Linked DNA regions of Homo sapiens: region 2 is linked to region 1. Evidence: fine-mapped expression QTL. Tissue or cell type: monocytes after LPS. Region 1 holds a variant in brackets; the other region holds the start of a gene. All regions are shown on one strand. Distances are between the middles of the regions.

Region 1 (2,753 bases):
AAAAAAAAATTAGCCGAGCATGGTGGTTTGTGCCTGTGGTCCCAGCTACTTGGGAGGCTGAAGTGGGAGGATCATTTGAGCCCAGAAGGCCGAGGTTGTGGTCAGCGGAGATTGTGCTATACTCCAGCATGGGCAACGGAGTGAGACTCTGTCTCAAAAAAAAAAAAAAAAAAAAAAAAAAAAAAATATATATATATATATATATATATATATATCCCCACAAATATAAAATATCTAGAAGTAAACTTGGTAATAATTATGCAGAACCTATAGGAAAACAATTGTTAAATTCACTAAATAATGTAAAACCTTAAAATAGTTTTTTTTTTAAAAAAGCCAATTCAAATGGAATATTGTCTAGGTATACATACATATGTCAGAAAAAGCTTTATCAAAAAAATAAAAGCAAGAGTCAGGTGTGGTGGTGTGTGCCTGTAGTCCTAGCTTCTTGGGAGACTGGGGCCAGAGGACCATGTGAGCCCGGAAGCTTGAGACCAGCCTGGGCAACAATTTTAAAAAAATTTTAAAATTAAAATTAAAATCTCTAATTTTAAAAAAAGAAAGGCCAGGCGTGGTGGCTCACACCTGTAATCCCAGCACTTTGGGAGGCCGAGACCAGCGAATCACTTGAGGTCAGGAGTTCAAGACCAGCCTGGCCAACATGGTGAAACCCTGTTTCTACTAAAAACACAAAAATTAGCTGGGCATGGTGGGCGCCTATAGTCCCAGCTTCTCGGGAGGCTGAGGCAGGAGAATCGCTTGAACCTGGGAGGCAGGGGTTGTAGTGAGCTGAGATTGCGCCACTGCTCTGCAGCCTGGGTGACAGAGCTAGAATCTGTCTCAAAAAGAAAAAAAGAAAGAAAGAAAAATAAAAAGCAAAGGACTGATCATCACAAAATTCAGGTTTCACTGAAGGAGGAGACAGGGAGATGGGATAGGGGAAGGGTAACAAGTAAGGAAAGATGTAAATCAACACAAAAATTAAACAAGAGCCTTGCAGGGACCAAAAGGGCAGTGCAGAACGCACAAGGATTTCACCCCAATTTGTGCACCTGAGACAAGAGAAGGGGAATGGGAGACATGAAATTGATTTGGATAAACTTTTATTCAGAGTATGGGCAAAAGCTTGCTTTTTCTAGCAGCCCACACCTGGCAGGGAAAGAGGCCTGTGTATCCAGGGGACAAGGCTAAGGGATCCAAAGACACACCGACATGCAGAGCCTTCAGAATGGACAGGTCAGGAAGGCTGCAGGGAGGAGGTGGCCTTGTCAACAGGCTAGGTTTCAATCGACTGAGATGGCGAAAGGGGAAGGACATCCCAGGCCTGCCGAGAGTGGGGTGGGGGTGACAGAACTTGCCAC[A/G]GTGGAGAGGCTGGACAGAGAGTAGTGGGACTCAGCTGTTCATGGTGGAGCTGCTGGTGGCAAGGGAAGAGGGGAGAGGCCCTGTGGGGTCACTGGAGCATTGCCCAGCCAGGGCTTAGGATTCAGTGGAGAAAATACCCCAGGAACTCATGAGGGAGCTAAGGCTACCCTGGAAAGAAGGATTGAGAAAGGATTGGGGTCAGGGGTTTCAGAGGGGCAGGGCTCCTTTGGAGAAGCTGAACCTGTGGCCCTGGGGGAGCTGCTGTGCCTCTTTTTAGCTGTGACCCTGCGTAATGTGATTACCATCCTGAGCCCCATATGCCTTTCAATAAGAGACTGCTATCTTCCTGCTGACCCCCACGGGAGGAAGCCCTGTGACAAGGATAAGGCCAGATATCTCACTAGAGACCACACTCTGGAAGTATCCATCCCCAGCCCAAGTCTCTAGCCCTCGATTGCCAGAGTGGAGGGAAGGATGTCAAAGCATTGGCCATTGCCAGGCCAGCCAGTCTTGCAGGGGCCAGAGACAGGAACAAGGGGTTAAAGTCAGATTCTGGGCATTGCAGTGAAGTCAGAGAAATAGATCTGTGGCTCCCTGATCCCAGACACCTCTCAGCCACTTAGAGCCACGCAGTACCCAGGCCCATCCAGCTCTGCTGAAGTTTGTCCAGTGCTTCAACCCAGGAAAACCCTATGGCCTCCAAACCAACTGATAAATATGTCAGAAAACACTCATTTGTGGCTGGGTGCAGTGGCTCACGCCTGTAATCCCAACACTTTGGGAGGCCGAGGAGGGCAGATCACCTGAGGTCAAGAGTTCAAAACCAGCCTGGCCAACATGTTGAAACCCCGTCTCTACCAAAAATACAAAAATTAGCCGGGCATGGTGGTGGGTGCCTGTAGTCGGGGGGCTGAGGCATAAGAATCACGTGAACCTGGGAGGCGGAGGTTACAGTGAGCTGAGATCACACCATTGCACTCCAGCCTAGGTGACAGAGCAAGACTCCAACTCAAAAACAAAAAAACAGGCCGGGCCTGGTGGCTTACGTCTGTAGTCCCAGCACTTTGGGAGGCTGAGGCGGGCGGATCACAAGGTCAGGAGTTCAAGACCAGCCTGGCCAACATAGTGAAACCCCGTCTCTACTAAAAATAAAAAAATTAGCCGGGAGTGGTGGCGGGAGCTTGTAATCCCAGCTACTCAGGAGGCTGAGGCAGGAGAATGGCTTGAACCCGGGAGGTGGAGGCTGCAGTGAGACAAGATCGTGCCACTGCACTCCAGACTGGTGACAGAGCAAGACTCCGTCTCAAACAACAACAACAAAACAAAAAACAAAAAACAAAACAGGCCGGGAGCGGTGGCTCACACTTGTAATCCCAGCACTTTGGGAGGCG
Region 2 (2,627 bases), 180 kb after region 1:
CAAAGAGAGATGTCAGCTGATACATGTCTGACACCTCATAAATTTCCTGCAACTCCTCAGCTCGAAGTTTCACAGTCCCATGGTAGATATAATCAACCAGGAGCTGGAAAACAGACTCGCTGACATCCTGCAGCACAATCACCCGGTTGTGGGCCTCCTTCAGGTTGGAAGTGAACATGGATCGGAAGAAGCAGCTCTGAGCTGAGAGGACCAGCCGATGGAGCTGAAACTCCCGGCCTTCCACCGAAATGGTGACATCAGCAAAGAGCTCCTCCTCTAGACACAGTTTCATGATGCCTTGAGCCACACGGCCTGAATGTGACCGATCTTTGAAAGTGTAGTTCACAAAGTAGTTCTCATCCATGGATGCTCCAGGCTCCTCTGGTGATTCCATGCTAGCCAACTTCTCTCTCTGCCAGCTGTCTGCAAAGCAACACCATCTTGAGTAACCTGAGGAATTCACAGCCATAGTCTGTGAATCCAACTGTCCAACTCAGGGAGGGAAAAGGAAGAAGTGAGAGCAAAGTGGGTCCAGATTGGCCTTAGTCCTGGCCCTGTCCATGATGTCCCTGACGCTATCCTTTAACCAAATCTGGGTTCGTTATCCCCAGTGGCGCCCCTCCGCTAATGATATAAATAAAAGTTCCAACTCTGGGTGTTTTCCTGAGAAAACACGGAATAATTCCTTTCCATAATGTTAACAAAAGACTTGGGATTTAGGTCAATATATGAAAGCAAAGGGCTGGGAGAGGCCTGTGATCGTAAAAGCCTTACTAACCAAATAACTGGGGCATAAAACTAGTGAAGCTCAGGGGCAGTAGAATCAGACAAAAAGGACCCCTGGCCCCGGCCTAGTGGCCAGGTCCTCTCCTTCCCAGCGCATGGAGTTAAGACGCTCCATATGAAGCCTAGCCTGGGATATCCGTGGGTCTTACATTTGCTCTCTTCTGAGCTGCTTCCCCCACACTTCCCCGCTCGCTCGAAAGACTCCCTATGGCTGCGTCCCAGAACTTGAGTCCATCCGCCCCCAGGCCGGGGCACTGGGAGGCCCATCACCCTGTGCAATGTCCCCGCTCCACCTTGAGTCGTCTTGGAAACGGTCGCCAGGGAAACCGTTCTTCCCGCTCAGGCCCGCCCGCCCTCGTCAAAAGCTTGGCTCAGAGAGCGGGGGAGGGGTGTGTAGCGTAGAACCCAAAACGCCCGCCCCCTCCCCTCCTCTCACCCGCCTGGTTCTTCAGCGTCCTCGCCTTCTCTCTAGGCTCTGCCACAAGGAGCTAGGACCACGCTCACCTCACGATTTCCCTACCTGCCTGTCTCGCTTTCTCACCTGCGTTCCCTCCTTTCATCCCGGAGCCCGGAACCTCCGCTTCCGGCTCCACGTCCGCCCGGAAGAAGATCTGCTGCACACTTCCGTTTCCGGTCCGTGCCCTTGGGGCTCCGTGTCCTGCTGTCTTTCCGTCCGCTGCCTAGTCTGCATCTGAGTAACATGGCGGCGGCGGCGGTAGCCAGGCTGTGGTGGCGCGGGATCTTGGGGGCCTCGGCGCTGACCAGGGGTGAGCACGGGCAGCCAGCTGAGACCGGGGTCAGGCGCAGCGGCGTGCCCAGTGCAGAGAGCTCCTCAGGGCTCATCCCGCGCGTCTGTGCCTTTTATCTCCCTGTGCAGGGACTGGGCGACCCTCCGTTCTGTTGCTGCCGGTGAGGCGGGAGAGCGCCGGGGCCGACACGCGCCGTGAGTATGTGCGGGCAGCGCTCTTCTCTGAACTATCGGCGGGGCCCCTTAGATGCCTGTCCTTGCCCTAGGATGCCCTTCCCTACGTCCTCCTGGCAAATCTTGGAGATCTGACTTGCAGTGGTCTTCACCCTGCATGCAGAATCGAGCCCTCCCTGTGCCCTTAGGCCTGTTATGGCCCTGATTGTTCCTTGTCCATTTCAATCATCCCCTTTTTGTCTGATTAAACTGTCAGCTCTTTGAAAGCAAGCAATATAACCTTTAGGCCTCAGAGCCCTGTAATAATAGTACCTAGCGTTAATTGAGTGCTTAATGTGTGCCTGGAACCTCGCTAAGCGTTTTAGTGAATGATCTTATTTCGTCCTCACAACAGCCTTATGGGGTAGATAGCATCTTACTCTTCTTACTATAGATCAGGAAACAGTCCAAAGAATTAAACTGCCCAGGGTCAAAGACCTAGTGAATGACAAAGTAGGCCTGCCTGCTGCCAGAGGCAGAAACACCTAACCATTATTCTGTAGCTTGTGATGTGTGATTGCTCAGTGGTTTAGGGTTGCATGAATGAGTATGTACATATTATGTTACAGTCAAGATACACGGACTGGGAGTTAGGAGACCTGGCATTTCTCCTTTCCTGGGTTTTCTCATTGACACACACACACACACACACACACACACACACACACACACACACACCTGGGCCTCAGTTTTCTCATTGACACACACACACACACACACTTTTAAGGAGAGAGAGAGTCTGTGAGGGATCTTCAAGCCCTGAAGTTCTTAGCTTGAGAACCTGGTATAAACTTGCGTGCTAAGGAGCTACAGAGAGGCAAAAGTTCAGTTCCCATCCTCAAACAGCTCTTAGTCTGACAGGAGAACTGAGACTACTGCT

Direction of the effects. Positions count from the first base shown, and alleles are read on the strand shown. Sizes are in standard deviations (SD) of each study's normalised expression.
With allele G in place of A in region 1, the expression in monocytes after LPS of the gene that starts at base 1,469 in region 2 is higher (moderate effect, 0.57 SD a copy in Quach 2016).

The links. PIP is the estimated chance that this variant, and not a neighbour inherited with it, causes the effect.
Region 2: it holds the start of NDUFS3, and the variant in region 1 is fine-mapped to the expression of NDUFS3 in monocytes after LPS (Quach 2016, PIP 0.95).

What each region holds. Positions count from the first base shown.
Region 1 is chr11:47,402,051-47,404,803 of GRCh38, forward strand. All of the region lies in intron 2 of SLC39A13-AS1 (SLC39A13 antisense RNA 1), which reads right to left. Among named protein-coding and RNA genes, the nearest start is that of MIR4487, 2.5 kb to the left of the region's middle. The variant A/G (reference allele first, on the strand shown) is at 1,362.
Region 2 is chr11:47,577,606-47,580,232 of GRCh38, forward strand. NDUFS3 (NADH:ubiquinone oxidoreductase core subunit S3) reads left to right here and starts at 1,469. Exons shown (of 7, transcript NM_004551.3): 1 at 1,469-1,553; 2 at 1,664-1,729. The coding sequence starts at 1,487. KBTBD4 (kelch repeat and BTB domain containing 4) reads right to left here and starts at 1,365. Exons shown (of 4, transcript NM_018095.6): 1 at 1,328-1,365; 2 at 1-423. The coding sequence starts at 1,346. RefSeq lists enhancers at 924-1,583, 1,276-1,515, 1,584-2,242.